4 linked regions of the Homo sapiens genome follow. The protein of the gene in region 4 interacts with the protein of the main gene of each other region in a biochemical or structural test. Each region holds a gene or a part of one and is shown on either strand. Other genes may lie near its edges.

What was found.
Region 1: the proteins of THBS1 (region 4) and PLG form a complex in vitro, tested with the Homo sapiens proteins (2 studies listed by BioGRID).
Region 2: the proteins of THBS1 (region 4) and FGF2 form a complex in vitro, tested with the Homo sapiens proteins (one study listed by BioGRID).
Region 3: the proteins of THBS1 (region 4) and PDGFB form a complex in vitro, tested with the Homo sapiens proteins (one study listed by BioGRID).

Annotation. Positions count from the first base shown.
Region 1 is NC_000006.12:160,732,977-160,740,732, reverse strand, and holds part of PLG (plasminogen isoform 1 precursor), read right to left. Parts: intron 6,739-7,756; coding exon 6,645-6,738; intron 3,847-6,644; coding exon 3,726-3,846; intron 2,196-3,725; coding exon 2,121-2,195; intron 1,666-2,120; coding exon 1,525-1,665; intron 1-1,524. UniProt on the Homo sapiens protein: Plasmin dissolves the fibrin of blood clots and acts as a proteolytic factor in a variety of other processes including embryonic development, tissue remodeling, tumor invasion, and inflammation. In ovulation, weakens the walls of the Graafian follicle.
Region 2 is NC_000004.12:122,829,232-122,836,987, reverse strand, and holds part of FGF2 (fibroblast growth factor 2 isoform 18 kDa), read right to left. Parts: intron 1-7,756. UniProt on the Homo sapiens protein: Acts as a ligand for FGFR1, FGFR2, FGFR3 and FGFR4. Also acts as an integrin ligand which is required for FGF2 signaling. Binds to integrin ITGAV:ITGB3.
Region 3 is NC_000022.11:39,234,651-39,242,406, forward strand, and holds part of PDGFB (platelet-derived growth factor subunit B isoform 1 preproprotein), read right to left. Parts: intron 6,478-7,756; exon of another isoform or gene 6,363-6,477; intron 6,260-6,362; exon of another isoform or gene 6,223-6,259; coding exon of another isoform or gene 6,205-6,222; intron 1,225-6,204; coding exon 1,128-1,224; intron 1-1,127. UniProt on the Homo sapiens protein: Growth factor that plays an essential role in the regulation of embryonic development, cell proliferation, cell migration, survival and chemotaxis. Potent mitogen for cells of mesenchymal origin.
Region 4 is NC_000015.10:39,583,596-39,591,351, reverse strand, and holds part of THBS1 (thrombospondin-1 precursor), read right to left. Parts: intron 7,736-7,756; coding exon 7,660-7,735; intron 7,365-7,659; coding exon 7,165-7,364; intron 7,053-7,164; coding exon 6,930-7,052; intron 5,883-6,929; coding exon 5,789-5,882; intron 5,227-5,788; exon of another isoform or gene 4,099-5,226; intron 4,006-4,098; coding exon 3,832-4,005; intron 3,311-3,831; coding exon 3,134-3,310; intron 2,827-3,133; coding exon 2,653-2,826; intron 2,394-2,652; coding exon 2,266-2,393; intron 2,151-2,265; coding exon 1,998-2,150; intron 1,548-1,997; coding exon 1,329-1,547; intron 837-1,328; coding exon 729-836; intron 162-728; coding exon 2-161; intron 1-1. UniProt on the Homo sapiens protein: Adhesive glycoprotein that mediates cell-to-cell and cell-to-matrix interactions.

The sequences.
Region 1 (7,756 bases), on a different chromosome or scaffold from region 4:
TTCATATACTTTAGAGTCCCAGGGACTCTCAAACATTAGAACTCCGGTTTTTAGACCTGATTCTACTTTAGTAAGTTCAAGAGGATAAAGGATTGGAAATAAGAAATGCCCTATTCTGATCAAGAAACATCATCGTCACCAACTTTGAAGCAGGCACACTTTCTGCTTCTGAGCATCATCAGAAGGCCCAGCCTGTCATGCAGACGTCCTCACTCTACAGGTTCCCTGGTGGAGCACTAAATGCCCTAGACTCGGGGTGTGGGGATGTGGGGTGGGAACTCTAAACTCGAAATGTATCAGCCTATCAGAGAACTCCTCCAAAACCCAAAATTTCCAAATTACTTGTTCAAGCCATCAGAACACCCCAGCTCTCTGAGGATCATGAGGAACGGGGACCTTCTATTTGCACATTTGCTGGGATGGCGGGGAGGACACTGGGGAGCAGGAGGGAGATCAGCTACTGTTTATAAAGGCTGAGCTGGAAAGGCTCTTCTCTCCTTCTAGAGTGTCAGAGCATCCCAGGACATCACCCCTCAGTTCACAGACCCAGAGAAGCTGCCCTGGGCTTGTGGCCAGGCCCAGGAGAGCAGCTCAGGCTCCTGCCCCGTGCCTTCTCATCCAGGCCATGCTCATCCCTGTCCACACTGACACCCTGTCTTCCAGAACCACCAGCACAGCGAGCGCCCTGCGTGCCTTGTCACCTGTCCCAAACCTGCTTCTCCTACAAATAGCTGTTTCTTAGCTGACTCAACTAGTATCTGGCTCCAAACAGCACTAAATGAGTGACATAAGCAAATGTTTCACTTTGTCAGGCTTAGTGAAACAACATTTCAACAGGAAAGAGAAAATCAAATCAAAGAAGACAATAATAATAATATAATTTACATTTATAAACTGTATTTGTGATTTTTTTGACATTGTGAAGTTGTTTTTTTTTTGTTTGTTTTTTGTTTTTTTGGTGTTTTTTTTTTTGGTACAGTGTCTTACTCTGTCGCCCAGGCTGGAATGCAGTGACACGATCATAACTCACTGCAGCCTCAAACTCCGGGACTCAAGTGACCCTCCTGCCTCAGCCTCCCAAGTAGCTGGGATTACAGGCACCCACACCAGACACCCAACTCGATCTTGTGGTTTTTAAAGTGCTTTGAAACAAATATAGTCTTATATGATTCTCTTAAACATATTATGATGAAGGGGGAATTGTCAGCCTGGAATAACTGAATCGTTCTCTGATCATGAATGTGTATGAACTGGTGAACATTAAGTGAGTTCTAGGAGTAACAGAGTACCTCATTTCAACTCTTTTTCCACATGAGAAAACGGAGTCCTGCTGCCTTTCTCAAGAGCACAGCTAGCATGTGGCAGGGCTAGGGTTGAAGATTGATGCTGTCCCCAAAGCCCTTGAGCCTTTCATGTGATAGACAGTTCCTCCCCACTGCCATGCAGTGGCCATGGCCCATAAAACCCAGACATAAAGCAAATATCTTCACCAGCGTGGGGTGAAGACCACAGGTGAACGAGTACCTGCTTAGCTTTAGCAAGGCAATATCTTTTCGTGTGGGCTCCAAGAACAGCCTAGACACTTCTATTTCCTGAACATGCGGTTCGAGATTCACTTCTTGGTGTGCACCCAGGATGACCTTGTAGGATGAAGGCCTTGGGGACCTAGAAAAGATGAGGACGTCAAGAGGAAAATATGGTCCAGCCCCTTCAGGTAACCTCTGTGCCATGAAATTGGTGCTGTCTCCCTGACACCCTTGGCCACTCAGAATTAGTGACTTCTGAGTGGCAAGAAGCAAAATTCATGATTTGCTTGAAACAGGCAGTTAAGGAATGTTCTTGGGCTGTTTGGGCAGAGACTGATACAGCCTATGGTAGTGAACAGCTCTGTTCTGCAGTTTATTCAGGCCCACAAAATCATCTGTACTGTGTCTTTCCTCTGCAGTTTCTTTCTAGAAACCCTTCCCTTCTCTCTTATCCAATTGCCCTGGCCTGGTCCCTAGTGTCACAGCCAGAGAAGGAAGGGAGGAAGAGTGAGAAAGGAAAGGAGGAAAGGAGGAAAAGAAGGACAGAAAAAGTATTTAAGACAAGACTTCATGTCAATTGTCCCCTAAACATACTTCTCCAAGCAGTGGGCAGCAGTCAACACCCACTCTGGGGATATCAAGGTGCCTCCACAGAAGTGCATTCCAAACCTGGAAAGAGGATTTAGTTCAAATTTTAGTTAAATTGATACTTTGTTCTGCTCCATTGTACAGAAAGCCAGAAAGACACGTTCACTTAATTTTGACCATGTTCATATTCCCAAAGGAAAGGACTGCAAGCCCAGCATCAGGATGGTAGTAATTTTGGCCAGTGCTCCAGGAGTGGGATTTTTGAGAAGGGCCCATCTATGCCAATTTTTCCGATGCTTGGGGGAGGCACAGGCATGGCCTGTCCACAGGAGAGCAAAGCTAAGTAACTCCGCATGAAGCTCTACAGCCACGGCTTTCACCCCACAGCCCAGGACTCCAACAGAAGCCACCAGCCCAAGACCTTCCCCCGAGGCCTCTTTCATTTTTATGACAAGATCTATGTAAGGTCTGATGAATCACTCTTCAAGGAGCCAGATGTGATCCTGAGCAGCAGTGACTCATGGGAGTCTTCTGATCTTACCTGAGAAACTTTACTTTTGGGGAATGTTTCCTGAATCACTTACTTTCTAGGACTGCGTAGGCAGGTAATAGCTCAGAATAATGGTGTGAGCCATTTGGAACCAAATTTAAAGAAGAGGAATAGAGATAGGAAGTGCATGATGGTAGCATGTTGATAAGTCAGTGAGGACGTAGACCACCACATAGTTTAGGAAAGAATGAATCTGAAATATGTGGAAGGTGAAAGCTCTGTAGAGCAAGGAGTTACTAAATGATAAAATAAAGAAAAATCGACTCAACAGCAGAGTGAAATGCAATGCGATCAGGTTTGTCGATGGCATTTCACAAACTTATGGAAAAGAGTCTCTTTAGGGGAAAACAGCAATTGAGCACAGGCACCCTCGTGTAGAAGTGAGATGAGGAAGCAAAACAGGCAGACGGATGGGCCTGTTTCCTATGCTTGCTTCCTAAGAGATACCCAAGAAAATGGAACTTATGAAAGGCATGTTCCACTGAAACAATACCCAAAATGTCCAGGTTCCCTGGGATTGGACTGATCACTCTTCATTTATGGGGATCATGACCTAGAATTTTTTTGTTTGCGAATGGATGAGTAGCCTCTGCATTGAATTCAATGATTCACGAAAGTGTCCAAAGAAAAAGAATCTGTGCCTGTGATAGACTGGAGATAATTTTGTCCTTGCTCTCCCAACCCAGAAAGTGTCACATTTCTAAAAACTTCCCCCTCTTTTCATCTGACAATGAGACAATGGATATCCATAGAAATCCTCAGAGCATCTTCAGTATTTTCCAGCAATATTGGAACTTGGTGCAAATCACTGTGCCTACAGATTTTGATGGAGCTGCCCAGATCAAGAAAAAGACAGCAATTTTTGTCATTTTCACAGTAGAGAACCTATAAAAATATATATGTATATATACATATATTAATTTTTGTAGCTTTTTTCCTCCTTCAGAAAACTTAGAGGCAGGTGCTGATGCCTCAGCTGTGTGGATTTTATGTAAATGTAGAAGGGTTTTGCAGGGCTTACGTGGAGGGACAGTATAAATCGTTTCTGGGCCTGTTCTTACCTTGTTCTAAGACTGACTTGCCAGGGCCAGGAATGTGGGTGGGCCACACACCCCCCTACAACCCTTCCAGGACATTTCTTCGGCTCCACTTGAGGCTTCCCACAATCAAATGAAGGGGCCGCTGTGGCACAAGGTGGGAAAGAAATCCCATTTGAGACAAGGTAGCAATTTTGTGGTGTAATTCGAGACAAATTCCAAGCACTGAGTTTTTGACATCTTAAAGGCCGAACTAAATAGTAAAATCATCATCTTTTGGAACATTTTCTCTAAGTTTCAAAAGTGGTAGTAGACAACACAGGACCCTCTCTTTTCAAGAAAATATAAGCACTTTGTAATTATTTTGTTGGAGAAGTGATCAAACAGACTGGTATAGTTTAGCATCAGAATGAGATATTTTCTGAGAAAACCTTGATTGGGACAAATGGTTATTTGTCATTGTTATTCTGACTCCATGCAGTATGTTTAGAACATGATGCCATCCTTCCCATAATCATCATCATCACCATCACCATCTAAACCATGTAAAGTTTACTGAAAACCATAATTGTCATCACTGCTGAAAGGCACAAAGGTTTATTTTTCCATGTGAGTCTCTGTGTGTGCACGTGTGTGTGTGTGTGTATGTGATTGTATGTAGCAAGGATTACTGTCCTAAGTTGAAATGTTGCCTTCTGTCAGCCAGCTTCAGGACAGCTCCTCTGGGGAGCCTCCCATGACTAACCAACGGCCGTGGGGGTGACTTAAACATATGACTTTATTCTTCTTTTCCTCCTCCCTGCCTTCTCTCTGTAGCCAGCCCACAGGGTCTCTGGAGGTAGGGACAGTGTCCCATCTTTGGTACCATCCACCAATGCCTACAACAGTGCAGGGGCTGCAGAGGGTATTCAAAAATGCTTCTCTGTTGTCTCCAGCCCTTCAAGGTCTTCACAAATGTAAATGTTAATATTTTAAATAATTGTTCATACAATTATTAGTAACAACTGTAAGAGGAAATTCCTTCCCAACCAACCAGAGATTCTATGCTCTAGTGAATCTGGAACCTGGGTTTTCCAAATAACTTTACATTTGCCATGGGCTGTTCTGAGAATCTATCTATGGAAGCCTTTTTTTAAAAAAAGAAGCAAGGCATAGAATGCAATCATCTTCTCTAGTGCTGAGCTCAATTTCTGCTAGTATGCCTTACATACAGTAGACATGCATCGTTGTACTAAAAGAGTAACTACAGAAATGATGGTACCCTGCTCCTACTATTCAAAACAAAACTGAATGTTTCTATTTATTTTTGCTTATTATTATTTGTACTGTATATGTTGGTGGAAAGGAAATAGTTATTAAAATCATTCACCACCAGAGGCTCTAGCTTTCTCAAGCACGAGTCAAACCTGAATAAACCATATCCTTCTGCATGAAACAGTCCTCAGGATTTCCAAGTGTCTGATGGGAACGCTTCTCACCAGGCTTGGGGTTAACCTCACTTGTCTCACATCAAGGTTAGGTGGGGGACCTCACAGTCCTTTGGGAAAAATCTTGTTCCCATTCTTCCTTCTTTCTCCAATCTCTAAGAACCTGATTCTTGTACATCCTCAATGTGGGTGAGGACACCAGAATTGCACCTGGGAAACTACTGCACTTCCCTTCCATGGGAGTCAAAGGTGCATGAGTCCCAGGCACGGTAGTGGGGTCTGAGGCAAGAAAATCAGTCTGGGCTCAACTTCAAGGCAGCCTGTCAAGGATAGAGAGCCCGGGCAGTGAGAGGCAGTGGTGTGTACCAGATGGGGCCAGAAGTGGAGAACTGGAACTGACTCCATCGAGGGACTTTGAGTTAGAGGTGCCACCAAGATGCTTCTGCAGAAAAAGTCAGCTATCAACTCATGCTAAATCCAGAGATCACAATGCCGCATTACAATAATATTGGCCAAGTAGAATCTTTCATACCATCCTAACCCCTCCTTCCTCCCTCTTGGTGTCCCTAGGAGAAGCCCAAATGCGAAGCTGGGCAGTGTGGCTCCCATGATCTTCATCACTGCCCTGTACCACCTTCCCAGGCAATCTCAGGATGCTGGTCTTCAGTGGACTTGGAGGCCAAGCTCCTTCCCCCAGCTCAAGGTCCCTCCACATGGCAGACCCAACCACAAGCAACCAAATTATGCATAGGAGAAGTCCAGGGTGGTTTTCTGTAACTAGGACAAATTGATTGGTCAGCAGAATGTTAAATATGGGACAATTCCAAGTAGCTTCCTTTCTTTTTTTTTTTTTTTTTTTCAGAAATACCCATGGATTTGTTATTCCAATTCTTTAAGAACTAATGTCAACTCCCCTTCCCCTGATCCAAGCCTCATACTCCCAACAAGAGTCTCAGAGCAATGAGGATGGAACCCAACAAGCAGTCTCTAAGCTATGTCACTAATGTGACTTGTGAGTAGTAAACTTATAAGAAAGGCCATCTGGGGCTAAAGAGCTGCACTACCTTTCATTGAATTCCTAGGATGGCCATCTGAGGTTTACAATGTGCGTTACATGCTTACCTGTTTCCTGCTGTTTGTATTTTCTTTCTTACTTCTCAGCTGTGGAAAGGGAAAGTTTTTCATCCGAATGACTCTAAATTTTTCATGCATCCCACGCTAGACATGGCAGCATTCAGTGGGACCATCCTGGGGCTGACTAGATTACCTCTAAGCTTGCTCTTTGGGAATTTTACATTTATTTTATTTATGTGTGCCTGGGGCGATGGGCAGGTGTTCCTCTAACAAATGTGGCCAATAGTAGGGCAGATTCAAGATGCCCATGATGAAGAGTGGGGTCTGATGGAGAGGGCAGCTATCTCCTCCCCAGAAGCAGTCTGCTCAGAAGCCCTTTTCCTTTTTTGTTGCAAATCCATATTAAGTAAGCAGTTTCCTTACCAAAAAGAAGGCAACCTACCACACTGAGGGACATCACAGTAGTCGTAAAGTTTTCTTGGATTTGTCGTGTAGCACCAGGGACCACCTACATCACCATCAGGGTTACGGCAGTACTGAAAACAAGAAGGCATGTAAGCTCCAGCTCACGTGGGGCAGGAGAGGGAGAAGGTGTTCCAAGGCTCACGCATTTCATGTCTATCCTTAGAAGACATAAAGGAGTGTTTCTTTTTCCTTCCTTCTTTTTTTTTTTTTTTTTTTTTTCTGAGGTGGAGTTTTGCTCTTGTCGCCCAGGCTGGAGTGCAGTGGCATGATCTCAGCTCACTGCAACCTCCATCTCCTGGGTTCAAGCGATTCTCCTGCTTCAGCCTCCTGAGTAGCTGCAACTGCAGGTGCACGCCACCACACCTGGCTAATTTTTTTTTCTATTTTCAGTAGAGATGAGGTTTCACCATTTTGGCCAGGCTAGTCTCGAACTCCTGACCTCAGGTGATCTGCTTGTCTCAGCCTCCCAAAGTGTAGGGATTACAGGTGTGAGCCACCATGCTCAGCCTCTTCTTCCTTTCTATTATTATTATTATTATTTTGGCAAAGTTATTTTTTGAATGCTCTAAAGCCGTCCTTCCTGTGCCCCTGTTCAAAAGGAGCTATGAGGCCACACCCCTGGACAGGGAGTGGTGACCCTCGGGGGTCTTTGGAGAATGGGTCTCCCTTCAGGAGCCTGACCCAGTGGAGGCCTTAGAGCCCCAGCACCAAAGGACAGTGGGACATCATTGATGTGCATTGTCCCTGGAGGGCTCAGCGCTCTCCTACCCGATGAAGCCTGTTTGCTGTTGATTCAGAAACATTTATTTCCATGCATTGTGCGCCCTCTATGGGGCAAGACACAGAAAGGCAGTGTTGTCCTCCCCTTCATATGACACTGTGGTAGAATAAGAAACGTATATTTGGTCTCTGCCCCCCAGTTCCTGACACGGAGCTCCTAAATCCCTTGGGGGTTCCTGAGTGAAGGGAGCATCTTTTGTTTGAATGAAGCAACTCTTGGTGGGTTCTTGGATAGTCTCAGGATGGGGCTGGTTGCCAAAGGAACCAACCATGTGATTGCAGGGTTGGAACTGTTCAGCCCCCCACGTC
Region 2 (7,756 bases), on a different chromosome or scaffold from region 4:
AATCAGGTATGAATTCCCAGGTCTGCGTTCCTTAATTAGAGTACTATAACCAGTTCTAGAACTGAGCATTAATGTTGGCTAGAAATATTAATATGTTACTTAACAGCTGAAAAGTTTCCAAAATAAAAAGTGATCCAACAAATGACTACGCTTTGCCTTTATTGCTTCCCTTGAATAATGTTAAAGGTGTTTGCAGAAAAGAACTACAGTGCTGTTGCATTCAATTTACCATTTTATATGCCTCATACTATAGTATTTATACTTATTTGAAGTTGTTGCCCATTCAACAAATATAGAGTGAACCTTTTCATGGGACTCAGACTGGTCACTCATTCAGCAATGAAGCCAAAAGGACCCTGGGATGAGTAAATTCAGCCTCAGACCCTCAGAATAGGAAAGAGTAAAGAACTACTGGGTAATGTGGTCTGGATTTTTTAAAAATAAAAATTTCTTGCCAGCTAGGAATTTCCAGTAAAACTGGGGGACATAAAATTAAAATACAACAAGCTATTAGAGAGAATTTTTAGATAGCACACAGAAAAGGAAAGATGGATACAGGATGATGTGAAAGAAATAAGGCCCAAAGCATGACTGGAAATGGGATAAGGTACGAGGACAGACAGGACATTTCAGCTTAAGGAAAACTGCCTGGTTAAAGGCTAAGATGACAAGGAAGACAGGAGACGTGAAGGGAAGGTCAGAAAGGAAGTTAAGAGACTTGGCTAATTTATTGAGTACATCTTCAATTTAACAAACATTCTTTGAGTGGCCACTGTGTGTGAGGATAGATGCAGCAAATGGGATCCAGTGCTTGCCTACAAAGAGTTCACAGTCCCAGTGCAGAAGCCAGACACATAAACCACTAACTATTACAGAAAGCATGAAGTTCTGTGTTCAGACTATGTACCAAGTATATGGGAAAACAGTAAAAACCATTAATTCTCCCTGGGAAGGTAGAGGAAAGTTTCACAAAGAAGTCTGTTGGGCTGGATCTTAAAGGATTTTTCCAGAGAAAGGTGAGGATGGGAGGAGTTGTGAGAGAGAAATTGATAAGAAAAAGAAGGATTTTTCAAAAACAAGAGTCACATGAAGAAAGGCCAATCATTGTGACAGTAATCGTTATGACACATTAAAGAGACTATAATTAAAGCACAGAGTGCTACAGCTTCAGGAAGGTATGGATGGTAAACAGTAAGAAATAAGGTAGGTCATGTTTAAGAAGGAAAGCCAGGTAGGTCTGGTTAGTGCTTAAAATTGCAGGAGAGTAGAGGTCATTAAATCAAGAGGCAGGGCAAGGAAATCACTATGGCTGGGAAACATTTTAGAGAGATATATACGAAAGAAGTAGAGAAAGGCATCAAAGACAATTCCATGGTGTCTAGCTTTGGAGACAAGAATAATAATTCACTACAAGCAGAAATTCAGGAGGAAAGGGTGCTAGTTTGAGAAAATGGTGTTAAGTTCTGTTTTATGTATGTTAAGTTGAAGCTATGGCAGTGTGTCTGCCCTCCAAGCAGTGGGAAATTGAGATGGGGAATCAAGACAGAGACAGAGACAATACATGATCTTCTGAAGGAATACAAGTACACAGAAAGAAGAGTAGAAGGCTAAAAACAGAACCTTGGGGGAATACAAATGCAAAAAAAAAACAGAAGAAAGTGGAAAAAAAGACAGTTGGATGGGCAAAAGTATAACCGCCTGAGGAGTTCTTCCAGCCTGCTGCACAAGGAAAGACCACAGCATTGCAGTAAAGAAAGAGTTTAATAAACACAAGGCCGGCAAAGCCACATGGGAGATAGAGTTAGTACTCAAACCAATCTCATCCACAGCTCATGGGATAGGAGTTTTTCAACAGCAGTTTGGGGGAAAGGGTGAGGATTGCTATGCAATGGGTGCTTACTGATAATTCATTGGGCTGAAGATGAAATAATAGGGGGTCAAAGTTGTCCTCTTGAGTGGAACCATTCCTGGGTGGGGCCACAGGAGTGGTTTAGCAGGTCCAGCTGGAGCCATGGGTGTCAGACATGCAAAAAACCTGAAAAGATATCTCAAAAGGCCAATCTACAATAGTGGTGTTATCTGCACCACTATTGGTGCACTAGTGGCAATCTATTAATACGTCTACACCTTAGCACAACTCAGATTCCTGTCCTCCCCTGAAGCCTGAGGGCCTTTCATTAGCTTTATAAAGGCAGTTGAGTTTTGGGGAAGGCTTATTATCCTTTAAACTATCTCCCAAAGTTATCTGGGCCTAAGCCCAGAAATGATTAAGGCAGCTTGAAAGCTAAAGGCAAGAGGAGGGGAGTGGGCTAGGTCATATCTCTGGCAGTGTCATAATTTTCTCAGATATAACTTTTGCAAAGGCAGTTTCAAAAGGAGAACCAGGTTGATGTGATGTAATAGAAGCCAAGGAATTATCAAGAAGTCAGAGGCAGACAATACTGCCACATGTCAGAGTAGCATGAAAAATTGGAAAAGGCCACATGATTAAATTAGAAGACTACTGGTGCTCTCATAAGAATGATTTAAGTGGAATACTGAGGGCAGAATCTAGAATTTAAAAGAGTTCAAAAAAAGAAAAGGAGATGATGTAGAAGAACGTACTGATTCCAGGATATTATTCACAAAAGAAAATAAGAATGAAAAACAATGCACAGCATACCTGAGAAAGTTTTATATTGCATAGTGAGACAGGACAGCCAAGTATAAAGGGGTCCCTGGAGAACCTCCAAATGGCCTGCACACTGGGAGAATGGGGTGGAGCCACAGAAGTTCACGCCCTTTGCAGGGAGGAGACTGGTCTCTCCTGTTCGGGGTGGTAACTTGGGAATCAATCTGTGAGATGGGGGCCTGTTAATATGAACCCCTATTGCTTTGCTGTGTTGTTTTTCCTTTTTTCTTTCTGACCAATAAATTCCATAACCCCTCACCCTCCAAAGTGTCTGTGAGCCTAATCTTTCCTGGGCGTGTGACAAGAACCAGGATTTTCCTACAACAATAGTACATGATAAAAATCTTAAATACTTTTAAGGAAATCAGAATTCCCAATAAAAGTTCTAAACAATTTTTCCTGAAAAATGATTCATCTTTCTCTAGATTATTCTAAGAAAAACTAATAGCCAGTCTCCAAAATTCCGAAATGTTTCCCAAATATAACTTTGCTATATATAATTATCTTCATTTAAAGATTGACCAAGTATCTAAACACAGATGTCAAGACACCAAGAAAACTGTAAACTTTGACCAAGCTTTATACAGCATATGCCTCATGAGTAGTTATTTCACAGCAAGTTCCACAGAGAATGTTTTCCTCATCAGCTGACATTTAGTGAGCACTCTCTGAGTAAAAAGTACTGAGCTTTTTATGATGTTTATTTATATAAAGAAGTCATGGTTCCTACCTTAAGGTGCCAGCATCTTAAGGTGCCTAAATTATGAACAGAGAATAATCTGTTCACAGAATGCAGCCAGATCATTACTACTCTGTACAAATTTCTTTTAAAAAATACTTTTTTCTTGGCTAATTTGAGTTATCATTTAATTACAAGTTTTCATTATAAATTAATGTATAGCTTAATTATAAATTAAACCAGGATCATTCCTTTCAATTGTTCAATTATATCTGGAACATACACTTAATATTCACATAGCTTCTCTTCAATTTTTAAATCTCCAAAATACCTTGAAAATCTGTGAACTTTTCATTTCAGAATTCTATTGGATAATTCATCTTAGAGGTTAAATTGCAGAAGTCAATAGCTCTATAAAAATACAAATACACACATACACACACACACACACACACACATCCATTATACATTTCTGTAAATGAGTAAGTATCAAAGATACACCGGTCAAGTCAAAAGTCACCTTGTGCAGGAAGAGTGACAGAAGACAGCTGGATGAGACATAAACACTGAATATTGGCTGTCTGTTGCCTCCAGGCCCTTCCAATTTCTTCAAACTAAAAATATTCTGAAGGTGTTTAGAATGAGACTGGTCTGGCTTCTAAGAACCACAGTCTATGGCTCAAAGGGTGAGTTCCCCTGGAAGTTGCCACTTTTCTTTTCCTCCTCTCCTAAATTCCTGTGGCTATACATAACCTAGCTTAAAAGGCCTTGTTGGCGGTCATTATTAAAGGGAGAAAAGAGAAAGCAGGAGCTAACTGAACAGTGGATACAACAAGGAAACACTTAAAATCACAGTGCCATAAGTGCATTTTCTAATGATCCAGCTAAAACTCTACACTGATAATCATTATTCCAAATTATTATGCAAACAATCAAGCATTAACTATTTATTGAGCACTGACAATATACAAATTAAGTACTAGACCAGATCCTAATTTCAGAGCACAGAAAAGGACAAACTCAAAAATAAAACAGAACAAAATACATTTGTTTGGACAGAATATCCTGATGAGGTTAAGATTTGTGCCCCAGGCTGGGCACGGTGGCTCACGCCTGTAATCACAGCACTTTGGGAGGCTGAGGTGGACAGATAACCTGAGGTCTGGAGTTCGAGACCAGCCAGGAAAATTCATGGTGAAATCCCGTCTCTACTAAAAATGCAAAAATTAGCTGGGTGCGGTGGCAGGTGCTTGTAATCACAGCTGAAGCAGAAGAATTGCTTGAACCCAGGAAGGAGAGGTTGTAGTGAGCTGAGATTGTGCCACTGCACTCCAGCCTAGGTGACAGGGTAAGACTGTGTCTCAAAAAGAAAAAAAGAAAAAGATATGTGCCCCAAAGATACAGATTTGCCTTGCTCCGTTTCATGGTCATAGACTTTTATCCCATGCCAGCCTTCTTACAGACGTGTGCTACGGGACATAGGGGCCCAAGTAGGGTATCTGGAAAATCAACAAACACTAGAATTGGAAAAACAAGCAAAGACTACAGCACATGTGTAATTACCAGCTTGTACAGGCATCTCGTGGTTTTAAAATAGTAGTTCCAATAATGTGAGACCTTAAATTGTCTTTTCAACATCACTGATGATGAGTTCTCAGAATCAGTGTATAGATGAAGAAAGTCAATTTTATGCTTATGATATTTAAAGAACCGTTCTTGTTTTGTTCATTACATCTGTAACATTTTATTTTCTAATTAAACTTTAAAATTATGTCCTTCCACATAAAATGGCATCATAAATCAAAATGAGAATACTTAAAACCCAATTGTTACACCATTGTCAAAGTCTAATTACATAACGGTCATTTTATAAACAAATGAAACCCCTCAGGGCATGTCATGAGGGGATATTGCCTTTTCTAGGCTGAAGTCACTTGGCATCAAACTCATCTTAAAAGGCTCCTAAGGTGTGGTAATATCTATGACTCATGAATTGTCCTTTCATTGCTGTACTGATTACATGATTTCCAAGATTAAATGAGCTATTAGATTCTGACTTCATTTGTTTACTGCACCCAATATTTATTACAGTAAATATCACGTTCATTAAGTAAAATTATTGCTATCCACTTGCCAGATATTACCAAAGAGAGGTGGGGGGAGAGAATCTAGTACGTGTATTATTAAATCAATGGTTCTATTTACCCCAAAGGCAGTAGTGAAGAGATGGAAAGGTGGCTTTATCCAAAACCCCAGGAAATCAACCTGAGGCACCCGTAAACTAGTAAGAACTCTTCAAAGGGGCTAGCAGCTCACTACCCTGAAATGGAGGAAGCCTAACCAAAGTGGGGTCCAGCAGGGCACACTCTATGGTGGAATGAAGAGCGCACTGAGGCTGAGGGATGGCAGGAAGAGAAGGCAAGGGACCAGGTGGTAAGAAGCTCATTCAGGATAAAAAAAGAGGAAACCCACAAGTGAACTTGAGTAATTGGTGACTTTTCTGAGCTTCAGTATCCTCTTCTGTAAAAAGAGATGGGTAAACCAGAAGGTCTGAAGCCTCCCTTTGATTTCACAAGTCCATGTTTTTATGCTTGGGGTTGCATGGAACACATGCAGTAGCAAAGAGCCCAGGGGTCAGGCCCACCTACAAGCCACCCCTGCTCCACACTGGGGTGGGCAGGTCTGCCTTTCCAAGTCTCAGCGTCCTCTGGAGCCTGCAAGCAAAGAAGTGTGGCACACAGGCAGTCACCTCCTGGGAGAAGCCCAAGGGTAGATACAGTACTTCTAACTACTCTCATTTTTTTTTTTTTTTTTTTTTTTTGTAAATAAGAGCACCTGGAATAAATTGAATACTAAGTGTACATAAGCAGCATACATTTCACTTACTATACTCTACCACATGTTGTACGTGCTGCTTGGGATAAAGTGTTCTCTCTTCTGAATGTTTTTACACAGCTTGCTACTTTAGAGTACATACTTAATATTATCCATTCCCACCGCATTGAAAGAGGCCTGCCAAAAGTTAAGGATGCCAAAAGAAAGGCAGGAGTGCAGCGCACATGCTGGAGAAGGAGAAACTCTCTAACCACTTTTAACATCTTGTTTTTATCAAGACTCTCATGTCAAATGAAGATTATTCCAGGACTATGAGAAAAACGCCAGAAAATGGGCCCTTTTGAGTGCAAATTCAGGAGAATGCCCAGGTGTGAAGCACAGTTGACCTTCAGCAACACTGAAAAATTGGAAACATTTGTGTTGTGTCATCTTCTCCTACCTCTTCTTTTAGAAAATTTTCCTCTCTTTCCTACCTCACAGCTTCCCACTCTGCCTCCTCTTCCCCTGCACCTCTCCAGGACCCCATCATTTATATCACAGTCTTCAAAGCATCCCTCCCCAAACTCCAGTCCTTCTGGCCAGCTTTTGGGGAAGAAATTGCACTCACAATTTAATCCATACTAAATGTTAAAATCTGATAATGGTTGAACTTGGCCTTTCAAAAGTTACCTGCAGTTTAGAAAACATGTAGGCACAAAGTGTCATGCCAAAGGAAAAAAAATTCCAGTGACAGATGTTCAGGTCAGTTGGACAAAACAGTCTGAGGAATGAGACCATAGATTTTTCAACTTTTCAAACAGGTCTAGAAATCTGAGCCATAATGTAGTAGGAAACTGTGGCTACTATTAACTCTTCTCCATGTTTTCTGGTCAGTTTTATTTGTTTTGGGGGGTCTCCTCATGGTTTGGTCAACTATCAGTAAACATCCAATATGTGAGAAAATAATATACTGTACTTAAATTTATGTCCAGGTTGGGCTACATAGAAATAGATGAAATTTGTCATTTTTAGATTTGTATTCTTGTCAGTCTATTGCCTGGTACAGGTATCCTTTAAAAAAAGAGTAGTCTCTTTGGGGACTTGGGAAGAAAGGGTGGGAAGTTGGGGAGGGACAGGACTACAAACTGGATTCAGTGTATACTGCTTGGGTGATGGGTGCAACAAAATTTCACAAATCACCACTAAAGAACTTACTCATGTAACCAACTACCACCTGGTCCCTAAAACCCTATAGAAATAAAAAATTTTAAAAAAATTGGTAGTCTCCACAAGTCTGGATGAGTTATTCTACATTTCCCTTTTAATGTCTTGTCCTTAGCTAGTTATAAAGTTAGCAGAGTTCTCAACCTGAGTACTAGTGACATTTGGGGTCAAAAATGTTTTTGTTGAGGGTATTATAATGTGTATTGTAGGATGTTCAGCAGCATCCCCGGCCTCTACCTGCCAGATGCCAGTAGCACCCTTCCAGGTTACAGCAACCAAAAATGTCTCCAGGCATTGTCAAATGTCCCCTGGGAGGCAAAATCGTCCCCATTTGAGAACCACAGAGTTAAAGTAAGATTACAAAAATG
Region 3 (7,756 bases), on a different chromosome or scaffold from region 4:
CTTTCTCCCTGCCATCTCTGGAATGTCCCTGGTGGGGAGGAGATGGGGAAAAGATGCGCTTTGTGGAAAGGTTAAGTTGATTAGGAAAAAATAGCCACATGGTTGCCTTGAAACAGGCCTGCTATTGAAACCTCATCTCCAAGATCCCGACCCCCACCAGGGGTGTGGAGGGGCCGTCTGAGGGTGGGGGTGTAAAGGCTTGGAAAGAAATGGTAGAAAGGCTAAATTTGGAAGTTGCCCCATTGTGTGTGGCCAGGGGCGGCCAGTCGGGCATAGGGTGGGGGTTGTGGGAGACATCGGGTGGGGGCCCTGGCGAACAATAGGTGGGCCCAGCTGGGGCCCCCTCCTGCCTGCCTCACCGCCCCCCAGCACAGGCGGGATTGAAAGGGCCCGGGAATGCTTTTGAGAGGGAGCCAGGGGCCCAACGGGGAGAGGAAACAAAGGCAGGAAATGCTGTTCCCCCGTAGATAGCGTCTGGGCAAGGATTACAAAGTGACAAAGAGACAGAACCCCAGAGGGAAGGGGACCTGGGGGTGCAGGGGGGCTGCTGACCAGGGCTCCAGGGAACAGGCCAGAGGTTAGAATAGAATGGAATTTGCTCTGAAGACAGCGTTTATAAATACATTGTCAATCCAGCCCGCCAGCCCCGCCACGTGTGTGCCACCGAGCACGTGCCCATTCGCTGAGTGAGCTCTGGGGCACGGGCAGGGCTGCCTGCTGGTCGAGGCCAGGTGTCCCCAGGGGACCTCACAGACCGGGCCCCTAGCCAGAGGGGCGGGGAGATGACTCCTCCAGTGCCACCCTCCCTGGCTGGGCCCACACCTGGAGACATACTCGGCAGATGCCCTGGGCACCTTCTCCCCGCCCTCCCTCCTCCTGGCACCCCACCCTTGGCACCAAGCCGGAGCCACACGTGGGTGCTTCTCCTGCCACACCCCAAGTCCCAGGTACCAACCCGCCTGCTGACTCGGCCCTGCCCTGGATGGGTGTGGCCACGCTCTCTCTGGGCTGCCATGGGCCTCTAGTTCTCCAGACGTCAAGAAGGAGGGATGCCTCCTGTCCTGCCCCTCCCAGATCTCTTAAAGTCTCCTCGGAGGGCCGGAGCGCGGGGCGAGGATTCCATTTACCTCCGGGGTCTCCGTGCAGCAGGCGTTGGAGATCATCAAAGGAGCGGATCGAGTGGTCACTCAGCATCTCATAAAGCTCCTCGGGAATGGGGTCCCCCTGCCGGGCAGACACCAAAAGGCTGAGTGAGCTGGGAGTGGGGGCTTTCCAGCATGGCTGTCTCCCCCACCACACGCTTTCTCGCTTTCTCCTGTGGAAAGCTCCAAGGTCACAGGGAGACGGACAGGCAGGATCCAGGCCTGATGATCAGGAGCACAAAGGCCTCGGGGCCTGGACCTGCCGAAGCCTCTGAGACCCAGCTCAGTCCCTGCACCCTCAACCCCCAACAGGAACCCCAGCTTGCTTTGAGTTGGACCTGCTTGTCTCTATGTCTGTCTCCCCCACCAAACTACATGTTCTGGGAATGCACCAAAATCTGATTTCTCCCTGAGTCTCACAACACACCTGACAGCTGAAGACAGCCAGCATCTCCCATGGCCAATCTAACCCCCATTTTACAGAGGGGAAAACAAACGTTCAAAGAGAGGCTCAATTATTGGCAAAAGCTGCATTCAAACCCATGCCTTTGGGATGACAGAGCCTGTACTCCCAGGCTCCTGGGTACAAGAGGTGCTTAATAAACGCGTGCAGAGTGCGATGGCCTCAGGAGGCCCCAGGTCCTAGCGGTATCTATGAAGTCTCTCACTCGAAAGAGGCGAAAAGGGAATCCTCGGACACGGCCGGGAAACCTGAAAGCTTACCCGTGCCCTGTGCCCAACCAAACCCTATTTTTAGAGCCCCTTTGGCCTGTTGCCAAACATACTCGAAACCTGATAACACTTCAACAGGCCTCATTCGGAGCTGGGCTTCCTCCAGGGAAACCGCAGGTCCCACAATGACACAAGAGCAGCCCCGTAGGAAGGTCACAGCCACGTCCCCCACAGTCCCAGGAGACCCAAGGGGCGGATGCCAGAGATCCCAAGAAAGAGGCGAGGGCAGATGGGAGACTGAGAATCACAATCCAGACCACCAGCCACTGAGAAGCAAAGAAAATTCCTAAGATGTCGCTGCACGTTCAAAGGCTGGAACCGGACTTCCACGTGTGCAAACACACACGTGCAGGCACAGGCACTCGGGCTGCACGGTCTGGACAGACAGTCCTGGAGAGGGCATCAATAGGCTTGGCACATTACTATAGAACCTTGGGTTAAACTATTTTCTGCCTCAGTTTCCCTGGATTAAGAAGGGAGGACTTCCCTTCTTGGTTCGCTCCACATTCCCGGAGCCGAAGGTCGGGGGGCTCAGAGGGGGTCGGTGCAGGCTACCTTCACAAAAGGGATGCTGCTTTCTCGCTGCCTGACGGCGGAGGGGGAGCGAGGGAGAGGAGAAGAGGTCGTCTCAGCCCTGTGGCCAGCCTCAGGGGGCTCTCCCCGAAAGCTCTGTTTCCTCCAGCTTATCATGAGGTCTAGCAACACCTCCAGGGGTTCATCCATGACCAACTCTGGCCACCCACATCGATCCAGGAGCCAGAAGACTCAGGGCGGGGGGTGGGGGTGACCACTTTTAAAGCTACATCATTCCCTGAAACCCCTGAGTCTCCATGTCTTTGTTTGAACATGGAGCTTACAACTCCGCCCAATGTCTAAGGGCTGCTGGGCAACTTGAGGAAAAAAAGGTGGCAGGGCTTGGCTGAGAACTAGGGTCTTTCCTTCAATATCCGGGCAGCCAGGGGCTGCACGTGCAAGACAGAGGAGGGTATGGGCCCCGCTGCCCCTCACTTTCGGCCCCATCTCCTCCGGGCTCTGCCTCCTCCCGCCCTCAAGCAAGTTCATTCTTTCCACCTCAGAAGAGAGACCACGCCTCCGGTGCTCTCCAAATGTTGACAAAGTACCCAACCCACAGAACAGAGGGCTTGGTCTCCAGTGAACACCAGCGAAAGCCGCTTCCCCTGAGAGTTCTGTCAAACCCAGAACTGGCAGGCCAGAGAGCTGAATCCCACGCCTTTGGACCAACTGCCGTGTGACCTCGGCTGGTCACTGCCCCTATGGTCCTGGCTCTCATCTGTGAATCGAGGGGCTTGAAGAACATTCGATTCAATTCTAATTCTGCCAGGAGGCGTTAGAAGGGGCAGAGAAAACGCCAAAGCCGGGTGCCTAGCCAGGCCTCCCTGGATCACTGGCAGAAGGAGAACAAGAAGCGTTTGTGGAGTAAAGATTCAATTAACCCCCCAGGGGAGGGGCCCAAAGGCCTAGTAGCAAATGGCATTTAGTGCTTGTGCCAAGATCTCCCTGCCCACTGGAGAGCCGGCTGCAGCTGCCAGCCACGGCAGAGGAGGCAGACCCCTGAACAGGCCGAGTGGACACCCCAGATCCAGGCCCACGACACATAGGAGATGCCCCTCCAAGGCTGAGTGTGAAAGAGCCCAGGATAGGGTCTGAGGAGGAGAGAGAGGCACATAGTAGGTCCTCGGTAAATACTGGTCAAATGCATGAAGGAGTCTACCATTTTCCAGGTTCTGTCCAGTATGATTCTTCTGCCTCCTCCACCAGGAGGGCCACCTGGGATATTCTTCCCCAACCCTAGGCAAATGAGCAACTAGAGTCCCTTTTAATCTGAGCAGGGAGACCGTCCCTGAAGATGCTTTTGGTAATGTGGCCACTAGATGCCCAGAACTACCCATAAGCCCCCGGATTTGGTAATAATACCACAACTAACATCTATGAATGCCAGCTACAAGCCACACGCTGAGAAAAACACCGTATAAACTACCAATCCTAAGAGGCTGGCAGTATTTGTATCCCCATCCTCCAGATGAGAACACTGAAGCTTAGAAAAAATTAAACAAGCAGCAACAGGTCCAGACAATTAGCAAGTGGCAGAGCTGGGTCGTTCCCAGGCTCCAGACTGCCCACCTGTTCCAGCCCACCATGGGGCGTCTCAGCCTCCCTCTCCTGTGTTCTAAGGCCACTGGCCCTCAGCATCACACAAGGTTCGTGTTGGCTCTTTACTCTGCAGCATGTCCCACGTCAGAGGCTCTCAACCAGGGCCCAGTGGGCCCCCAGGGGACAGTGGCAATGTATGAAGGCATCGCTGGTGGCCACAACTTGGGGTGTGCACTGCATCTTAAGTTGGGGGAGGCCGGGGATGCCGCTCACCACCCTTCAGGGCACAGGACGGCCTTCCCAAACATCAGGAGTGCAGAGGCTGAGAAACCCTGTAGCGGAGGAAAGAGCAAGGGCTCCAGATGCCAGGGCAACCTGGATTCTTGGAATCTTGTCACAATCTAAAACCTCGGCTTCTGCATCTTTTAAATGGGGCTAATAATACCTCGCCCGGGGTTACTGGGAGGCATAATTGCACAGAGCAGAGCTGCCAGCAGATAATGGGAGCTTAATGAGTTGTCACTGTCATCATCATTAATTCTTTCCGGATGGCTCCTTTGTGGGCAGCAGCGAGTGGCACACGTGCTCAGGGCCAGCAGCACAGGACATTTTTGAGGATGACAAGGAGTGGGTGGAGAGCTGCCTGCCCATGAAAGAGTGCGTGACTTTGCATTATCCCTTGTGCTGGGCCACAGGAAATGGTACCCTACCTCCACACTGGCAGAGCCTGGGCCGTGTGGGCTTACAAGGCCCTTCCGGGGCTGGGGGTGGGTGAGGGTGGGGGGACACTCAGCACGTGCTCAGCTCCAGGATGCAATGCTCTGGGGATGACGAGCATGAGCACCTGTTGGGAGTCACAGGCTCTTCTTGGTATGGGAAGGTGAGCCGCCCGGAGCCTGGTTTTCCTGGGCACAGGTTCCGCAGGCCTCCAGGTGGACAGCTCACTTCAGAGATGGGAAAGGAGGCCTGGCACCCTGAAGAAGCTGTCCCAAGATCTCAGGCCCGGGGTTTCTGGCAGAGTGAGGGCGTGGCGAGGAGGCAGCTGGGGCAAAGCCAGCCGTGGGAGCCAAGGTAAACAGCCTCCTCCGACCCCGCCCCCAGCGCCAGCTGCAGCAGGTAGGAAGGGCACGAGCGAGCGTGAGGCCAGGTGAGTGATCTGCTCCCAACCAGGCTGGCAGATCAAAGGGGCTTGAACCCCACCCTCCTCCTGGGCCCAGCACACACACACAGATACACACTCCCCGGCCCGCCTGCCATTCCCACCAAGGGACACACAGGCCCAAGCAACCAGGGGCGTTGTCTGTGGCTGGCAGAGGAAGAAGCTGATGAGGCCTCCCAGAGCCTGCCTGCCTGAGAGTCGCAGGCCTTATTTAGATCGAATGCCAAAGCCAACCAACCCCTTTGAAGAAGCCCTCTCGGGGCAAACCACAGAAGCCATTAGAACCAGTGTTTCCCACCTAGCATTCCCCTTCTTTATTGCTCTTGGGACCCTCCCGCTCAGCCTCTGCTCCTTCACGTGGGCCCAGAACCCTGGCCTCCCCACCTCTTGCAGGAGCAGAGGAAAATTAAAGCAGGAAGAGAGGAACCAGTCCAGCCATTTATAATACTGGCAACCACGGCAATCACTGCCCATCCCCATCCCAGCCAGGGGACGGGGCCAGGGGATTCTGCCATTCTTTGGGAACTCTGCACTAATCCAATCTTCTCTCTCTCTTTTTTTTTTTAGGTGGCAGAAACTTAGCCCCAGCTAAAGATACACAGAACCTTTGCAGTCTGATTTTCTTTCTGTTTCTTCTCCTCTGTCCTGTCTAATCCTGGTAGCCCAAGTCCCAAGACAGAGGAGAGACAGACATGCTTCTCTCTCAAGATGGGGGGCTTTGAAAGACTGATGCCTACCAGAGGGCTGAAAAGGGGGGCTGCCCTCGGAGCAGAGCAAAGCGAGGACTCAGTGGGGCCATGGAGCAACAGGGGGCCAGGTCCTGCCCTCCCCACCAACCCAGCACTAACTGTTCTTTGCACTAATAGTTACTGATTGTCCACAGGGCTCTGGGCACTGTTCTAAAAGTGGGGACCAGGAGGAAAGCTCTCTAATGGGGTTGACACTCCAGTAGAGAAAGCAGGTAATAAACAATGAAATAAACCAGAACATAGGAAGAGTTGTCACAGAAGAGGCTCCTCAATGTGGGGAGGGGAAGACAAGACGTGGAGAGGTACTTACGAGGCCCATGATAAACATCTCACCATTCCTGCTCAGTCAGTCTCTCTCTCTCTCTCTCTCAGATGCGCACACACACACACACACACACTCTCTCTCTCTCTCTCTTCCTGGCTCTTGCACCAGATCCTCCAAATTCTGTTTGACCTGCCCTTGCACACCTCCAGGGCTCTGGGATTCCAGCAGTTGGTCTCCTGCCCCCTAGGGCCATTAGCAAAGCCAGAGGAAGCTGGATGGCAAAGGGCAGTGGGGCCCTTCACTCTTTCCCGGAAGAAGTGTGCTGAGGCCAGACGCGTCACGTGACAGTGGGACTCGCCCTCCTGGAAGCCAGCTCAGCTGGTGGAGATGGCACCTCAGAGGCCTCGGCAGGCCCTCCACCCAGCCCTGCCTCACGGCTGCCTGCCGTCTGCTGAAAGATTAGTCCGAGCACGACCAGGACGTGGACAGCTCCAAGGCCACCTCCACCAGCAGGCCTGCCCTGACTCTCCCAGCACTGGCCATTACAGCTCCTTCCTGGACTGACCCCTGCGTGGTTCCATCCCCATGCAGGTCCCCTCCCCCAGGGCCAGCCTGAGGCTCACTCAGGCTTAGCAGCAAAGTGCTTCATAAACTGCAAAGTGCCACATACATCGCGCCTGTGGCCATGTGTTCAAGAATGCTGTGACTAAAGTGAGGAGAAAGGCAGTTTCTGTGCCACAGCCTCCACCCCAGATACACGAGCCCGTGGAGCTGTGGGAAAGAAGGAGGAGGTGCTGGACGAAGCTGGAAATGGTAAGGGGAGGCTGGGGAAACATCCAGCTGTCAGCGGCCTCCCCGGGGCACGCTGGGATCAGCCAAGAGAATGCAACAGCCAGGGGTGGGAGCCCCCTCCGCGGTTGCACACGCCAGGTCCCTCCAGTCTTGCAGGTTCAAATGAAGGCTTATGTGAAGGGGGAATCGCTCTGGACAGCTCAGTGCCCCTCAGAGTCACATCACCACCATTTTCCACCACGCGGAGGTGGTTGAAAAAAAGGAGTCACAGATGGGTAAGGTTTGAGGGGCGTCGGGCTGACGAGGCAAAAAAAAAAGTAGGTGCTGTGGTGCTGATGGGAGGTTCTCCCTCCCTCACAGGACGCCAGGAAGGAAATGGGGCCGCTACAGAGGTGGTGAGGTGCCAGGGCCCACGGAGGGCCCACCTGTTGCGCGGGGGCGAGCACCAGGCGCTGGGTGCACGGGGGCCCGTGCGTGCCTGTGTACGTGCGTGGGTGTGCGCGCACGTGTGCTCAGGCCGCGCGTGCAGGGGCCGTGCGTGCGTTTGTGTGCGGTGCGCGCGCGTGTGTCCCGCGTGTGCACGGGCGTGGCAGAGGCGGGCGCGCGACCTGGCCGCGGTAGTGCGTGCCCGTCGCTCTGCGCGCCCGCCCGCCGGAGCGCAGCATCGCCTCCGGCCAGGAGTGTGCATGCGTGGGGTGAGTGAGCGAGTCGGGGGCCCGGGCGGGGTGGGCTGCGGAGAGCAGCCACGGGGCGCCGCCGTTCCCAGGACGCCCTGGCACCGGGCCCAGCCCCCAGGTCCCACGGC
Region 4 (7,756 bases):
CCGTCTCCATCAATGTCTGCAGCACAGGCGTCTCCTTCCCCATTGTTGTCTGTGTCTGCCTGATCTGGGTTGTGGTTGTAGGGACAGTTGTCACAGCGGTCTCCCACATCATCTCTGTCATAGTCATACTGAGCTGGGTTGTAATGGAATGGACAGTTGTCCTGCAAAGAGAAGAAATGGAGCACTTAACAATGTTGTCCTTGAAAACAGCTCAAGCCTCAAACCATGTGCATAATATGTCTAAAACTGTGAAAATCAGCAATACTTTCTACCTAGTGGATAGGCTAATTGATCACTCAGTGTAAAACGATCACTACAAAAGTTAAAAGGACATAGTTAAAAAAATGGATCCCTGTGGGTTAGAAGTTAGTGAGATGTAGAATATAATCCCATCATCTCAGTTCATAGTGTGCCCAAAGTCAATTTTACTGTAATTTCGATGTGACATTTGAAATGAATCTAGGGAACAAAGTGGCATTTGTTTATGCATTATAATTTCTCAAGTACAGAGAAAAACAGTTCTGATGAAAAACAAAACCCTCATTTAAAAATTCTCTTGGCAACATCTACATCCTTAAACTACTGGAACACAATGAATAATTTCTAATTATCCTGTGTATTGATTTGGTATATTTTTTGCTATAGCCATGTAATTTCCTTGAATCCCAAAGTGTTTCAGGCTGTTGCTGAACTGAAAAGATGAAAAAGGGATAGAAAACTGTTTTTACCCTGTCATCTGGAATTTTATCATTGTCATCGTCATCATCACAGGCATCACCAATTCCATCCTTGTCATAGTCTTCCTGCCCTGAGTTGGGAAGGTTGGGGCAATTATCCTAGGAAAGAGAAGATATATATCACTGCTTCAGTTGCCTTCCTCATGCTGAGCTCATGCACGAGGGAGTGTACCTGGAATTCCAAATAGAAAAAGAACAGAATTTGGCTCAGTAACAGCATATTTTTTTTATGGGAAGACAAGAAAATAAAACTTTTCTTGGGGGATATACATACAGAATTTGTGTAAATGCTCTAGGCTTTATAGATGTTGTGAACACAAGTCATGCTTTGCTGGTATTTGGATAGAGTACTGAACTTTTTTTTGGACAGAAGAGTTGACTATGGAACACAGTTGCCCAAAAAGAGCTAGCCCTGTTCATGTTTTTGGCACCAAGTGATTTAATTTTAATAGGAATTAGTGCCCCTCTCCCTTTGGGAGATTTAATCTTTCAGTTTCATGTCCAAACTTTAAGTATTTAAAATTCCTTAGCCTGTGTTTTGATAAGGTGATGGGCCCTCTTTCTGGAGGCACACAAAGGACCTGGCTCTACCTTTTTGCAGTGGTAAGTCGCATTGGCCACGCACACCAGGTTCTCATTGGGCCAGCCATCCAGGTCTGTGTCCTCCCCGCAGATGATGCCATTGCCAGCGTAGCCAGGCTTGCACTCGCAGCGGTACATGGGGTCGCTATAGTGGCCCAGGTAGTTGCACTTGGCGTTCTTGTTGCAGTCGTGGGTCCCATCCGTGCAGGGGTTACGGGGCTTGCACACCTGAGGGTACACCATGCTGCTGTTACACAGAGCTTTTGAGAATCCTCAGATATCATGGAAACAAGAATCCAGATCCCTGTCATCTCTGAGTAGACAGAGGCTCCATTTGGAAGAGTGTGGGTTACCTCTGTCCCTCCCCATTCTCCCTGAGGCTATAAGCAAACTTTGCTTTATGTTTATTTTTCTTGAATTTGCTCAGCACCTAGGCGTTTACAAGTCCATCTGCTCACAACTTATTCCAGAGCAGCATTTTTAAATATGGAAGACTGTTTTTCCCCTGCAGGATTTACCATGGATTTTCTAATCACGTTTCTAAAACTAGACCGTACATTCATCTCCTCGCCCTTTTTTTTTTGGTGAAGGGTATGAAATTACATTCCTCCCGCTCCCAGTTATTTTGGTCAAGGACAGCTCTCCTGTCCTCTGGTTTACTCGTCTAGTTGACTGTACCTGTTTGTTGGCCGTGGCATGTTCGACACCCTGGCCGAAGGGCTGTGAGCCGGTGAAGCGTGGGGGGCAGGGCAGGCAGTTGTAGCCGGGGTCCGTGTTCTCACACCGGTGCTCTCCATTGTGGTTGAAGCAGGCATCAGGCACTTCTTTGCACTATGGAGGAAATAAGAGCGTGCATCATGTTTAGAAGTCACTGCCATAAGGAAGCGACTGCACAGGTTAGCTGCTTTCCTAGATCCAGAAACTCGGAGCCCCATCAGTTCCTCACCTCATCAACATCTGTGCACTGGATGCCATTTCCACTGTAACCAGGGGGACAAGCACCACATTTCCAGCTGCCATCAGGGTAGCTAGTACACTTCACGCCGGCAAAGCAGGGATTGGACAGGCATCCATCTGAGACAAGGAGAGAGAGACAGTCACAGTAAATGGTTGGTCTAAGCTGCCATACTGCCATGCTGGGCACTTAACACAGTGTAAGATATTATAGGGTATAGGGAACCGATAACTTGTTGGGATTATGTTGTCCACCTGCATCTTAGAGCAATCAAATCGCTCAGGACTAACCAAGCTGGAATCTCCTCGAATGCTGACTGCAGCATTCAGTAAAAGAGCAAAGCTCCTGGGTCGTTTCATCCTGGGCTGCGTGGCTCACCAATTGGACAGTCCTGCTTGTTGCAGATCTGGTTTTCTGTTACATCACCAACGCAGTCCTTGCCTCCAAACTGGGGTGTGGGGTTGTTGCAGAGACGACTACGTTTCTGTACCCCTCCTCCACAGGTGACAGAACAGATGTCCCATGGTGACCAAGGACCCCAGCCTCCATTGACTGTAAGAAGATGAACCACAGGCAACAATTAAGATCAACTTTCAAATCCCTCCCTTGTCATAGACTCTCCTAAGCCCGTTCAAGAAACCTCTGCTTCTCTGACACATGGAAAGAATGCTGGGGAAGAGGGTGAGTTTGTTTTTCATTAAAAGAAGTTGCTGAGCCTGCAGGACTTTGCTTCTGTTTGTTTCTCTAGTAGGTAACCTTCCTGCTCTATGACCCACTGAACTGCAGGCTGCAGATGCCAGGCAACCAGCTGGGCAGAGCTGCTGCCCATGCTCACCCTTGCAGCGGACCTCACACTTACTGGGGCAGGCGTCTTTCTTGCAGGCTTTGGTCTCCCGCGCTTCGCCTTCACAGGGTTTCCCGTTCATCTGGGGGCTGGGAGAGTTGCAGAGCCGGATCCTTGTGATCACACCATCACCACATGTCACAGAACAAGATGACCACGGGGACCAGTGGCTCCAGCCACCATCCTGTTTAACTAAAGTACAGAGTTGATGGTCACAAATGGTTTTGGCTTAGAGACAGCCAAATAGAGGCTCCCATCAGGAGCACGCAGAAGTATTTCCAGGAAATGGTCAATGGCAACTAAACCCAGTGTACGGTAGAAATTGGCTCCTGGCCACATGCCCAAATGTCAACATGGAATGTTTTCTACCAGAGAACGGATAAGTTCGCTGTTTTTATGGGTTGCTGTTAATATCCTAACATTTACAGGGTGCTTACCATAAACCAAAACTCAGTGCTAACTGCTTTACATGCAGTATCTAAATAAAATGCTCAAGATAAACTTATCAAGAACTATTATTATCTCCAAGTTGCAAATGAGGAAAGAGCCTCAGAGAGGGTAAGTTGTGTTCAAGGGTGCACAGCTAAGCAGTGGGATTGGGATCCAGAGATCCTAGAACCCGTGTTCTTAATATACATGCTGTGGAGCTGCCCTTGGTGACGACAACAAGGACAGGTCAGTTCTCCACGTCCCTGAGAGGCTAAGATGCTTACATCTCTTGTCACACTCCTGAATGTGGCAGGTCCGTGTCTGGACCGAGGAGCCCTCACATCGGTTGTTGAGGCTATCGCAGGAGCGGCCGCGCTGCTGAATTCCATTGCCACAGCTCGTAGAACAGGAGGTCCACTCGGACCATGGAGACCAGCCATCGTCCGCAGAGTCGCTGGCTGCAGGGGAAACAGAGGTTCATCAGGTACGTGATGATTAGGACAAGCTGTTCTTTAGAGGGCTCTGTTCAGGGCCCTCCACTTGCCAGAGGGTGAAAAGCAATATATTTATTTCTTTTTGGCTTTACTGAGGTATAATTGACAAATATTATATACATTTAAGGTGTATAATGTGATGTTTTGATATACACATATATTGTGATTACCACCGTCAAGCTAATTAACACATCTCCATCATCTTACAGTTACTTTTTTTGGTGATGACTTAAGATCTACTCTCTTAGCAAATTTTAAGCATACAATCCAGTATTATTAACTATGGTCACCATGGTGTACATGAGCTCTCTAGAACATAATATGAGCCGGCACAAAGTTGCAGTTATACAGGATGAAAAGCAACATATTTCTTAGGCCAACGGCCCAGGGGTTTATCCCAGGTCATGATGTGTACAGCAGTGGGGTAATCGGATGCTTTGCCTGGCTCAGTACAGCTGAGCCTTCCCACAGTGTATGCTCTCCTATTCATTGATTTTCTTTCTCCTCTCAGCATTGCAAATGAGTTTTCCTTTACTGACTTAACATATCTGGGTAGGCATTTCCAGTCTCAGACTTCCAAGAATGCGCGAGTATGAGGAAGCTTATAGGAGTCATTTCTGTCAGGGGAGCCATACACCATGTGTTTGACAGATGAGTGTGAAGGCAGCCGAGCTGTTGTTGGTTCTGGCTCCAACTCGGCCGTGAGTTAGTCAGTTTGTTGTTCCTCTCACCCCAGCGTTTGGGGCCTTCTCTGCACATATTGTCATAAGAGGACAGCATGTTTGTTTACCATCTGCCCAGGCACCACGGCTACAATCACATCTAGCTGTATCAGACAGAAGACAAAGAACTTACTTTCTGTGGTCATTAGTTGTAAGTTTTCTTAGCAATCCCTGATTCAAGTTCAAAACTTTGCTACCTCCAGCTAGCTTTGTTCCTTTTAACGCACATGTTAAGTGAATGCGGAACAGAAAATAAATGTAAAAACGACCATTACAGTGCCAATATCGCTAATATGATCCCTGGATGGAATTGGTTATTCTGAGCTGTGACAAGGGTGTGTTTGTGTGTGTGTGCATGTGTGTTTCTGTGTGTGTGAAGGGCAAGTGCTGTTTTCCTGTTTTCTTCCTTATCTTAGTTGTAATGAATCACTTTTATAACTTGTACCTGCTACACTAAGTATTGTCTCAGCAAAGTCATTCATTTTACTGGTAACAAAAGCCAGGGATAACGTGCCATGGAACGATATCGTGCCTTATTTCTTTTGGTGCTCTAGAGCTCAGATTGCTGCTATTCTCTTAGGCCCTCTTATCCCTACAGATGAAAGGGGCAAAACTTCCAGGCCCGATCAGGCCAATGCTTACACAGTAAGCCTGTCAATATCTCTGGTGAGCAGATTTTTCTTAACTCTGTGCCACTAAGGTCAAATTCTAAAAGCAGTCAACTTAGAGCTGTTGCTGCCACGTCTTCATCTCTTTTCCTCAAAGCAAAAAATCAGAATTAATGAGCTATACCAAGATCTTCACTGCCATTACTGCAATCCAGATGGGTAATTACGATGTACTCATAATGGAGTTTTGGCTCTGTACAGCAGATAAGCTGTCAGTTAACCAGCTGCTGCAGCAAGAAACTGAATGGAAGCATGATGGAGATGGGGGTGGGGTTCCAGTGTTGTGCTCGGCTGTCTAGGATGTATGTAGAACTGACCTAGTCACTGAAGAATAGCTATGCCATTTGAGAAACTTACGCCAACAGCGAGGACAGCATTCTCCATCAGGAACTGTGGCATTGGAGCAGGGCATGATGGGGCAGGACACCTTTTTGCAGATGGTAACTGAGTTCTGCAGGGCAAGAGAGTGAGAGGGGAACAGGCTGCTGAGCATGTTGCATACAGAAGTCTACATCCTGTAACATTTCCTTTACAAGCCAAAACATGGTCAGGGCTGTCAATGCTCTAGTGGAATGATTTTCATAGATCTGTCTCTGTCATATTTGCAGCCACCACTATCGTAGAGACAGTTCTAGTGCTAGTTTACGTGTCACTCCATTCCTTGGAAAGTTCTTTTTAATTGCTACTTAGTCAAGGGTGGAAGTTACAGTACAAAGAATTTATAGCAGAGGAACCAACAAACATCATGGGTCAAATCTATGTCTGAAATCAAACTCAGAAAATTCAGCCAGGACTTTTACATTTTTATATTATGTGTTTGGGGGGAGGAAGGAAGATCTATAAGCACTTTTTCCTCATCTATAGATCTGTGATCTGTCTTTATATTGGAAAAGAAAGGGAATTTAATGAAGTTGGTTCCCACAGCCAGTCATCTGTGATTTGTATTTAAGCAAATTCAAATACTTTGCTATTAATAGATAAGCCAGGTGAACCTCCAAACTCACTGGCCACTGGCATGCGGGGATGCTAGAGTGAATCACACACCTGGCAGTGCCATCTGAGCAAAGCAGACAGTAACATCCTAACAGTGTCAGACTAAGTGATTTGAAAAACAATTGCTACTGTACTAAAAGAACCTATGCCAAAGCTGAATATAAATCAGGGTTGGGAAAAAAAAATGAATGTTCCAACCAGGTTTTATTTACCTGACATTCAACACTTAGTCTTTGAACTAAGGTAGGTAAATTATTCAGATGTCTTAGTAGATTCATTCTCTTAGATACTTAGCCTGGGGTATAATTAATACTTTGATAAACCATCTGAGAGTTTAAAGAAGAACTTATAGATGCCATAATTGCATCTTAAAGAAAAAAAAAACACTTTGTTATCAGGCCATGGAACATAAAAAGAATCTCTGTGGCGATTAGGGTATTTCCCCAAAGATGTAGGTTCAAACAAAAGCCGTCGATTCTTATTCTGGCTGGTGAAGGTCCCTTACCTGACAGTGACACTCAGTGCAGCTATCAACAGTCCATTCCTCGTTATTTCTGTACTGAACTCCGTTGTGATAGCATAGGGGAGGCCGCCTCAGCTCATTGGCCAACTCTTTGTTCTCTTCAGTCTAAATGGGAGAGAATATCATTAGTGTCCCCCCGCATTTTCAGTCATTTGGGACCATCTGCGATAAACCTTCCAGGGTTCATGCTAACGGGCTGGGTGCAGAGGCCACTGACCACTTTGCGGATGCTGTCCTGCAGCGTGGTCACAATGGTGCGCAGGCCCCTGAGTTCCAGGACCATGCTGGACAGCTCATCACAGGAGATGCCGCAGATGGCTTGCAAGTCCTTTGTCTTGTGGCCAATGTAGTTAGTGCGGATGGCAGGGCTGGAACCATTCACCACGTTGTTGTCAAGGGTGAGGAGGACACTGGTAGCTGGCAAGAAACAAAATGAAAACTTCAAATAGATACTCTTACCAACCAGCCTCTTGAGTTCTTAGTGGTAGAAGACGTTTCATTTGGTGTGAAGGATGCAGGTAGAGGGGTTGCGTGTATGCGCACGTGTGTATACGTGTGTGTGTATAATACCCCTTGGAGTCACTTCTGTATGCCTCTTGATGATCTCACTGGGGGTAATTTATGTATAACCACTATTGCTAAATTCCTCAGTTTGTTTTTGGTGGAATTCCCCCTGATTCCCTATGTGCCCTAAAAATAGAGGGGTACTCACAGCTGGAGCAGCCTTTGTTCCTGAGGATGTCTTCTGGTGTGGTTCCAAAGACAAACCTCACATTCTGCAGCACCCCCTGTGGGCAGAGGACACACAT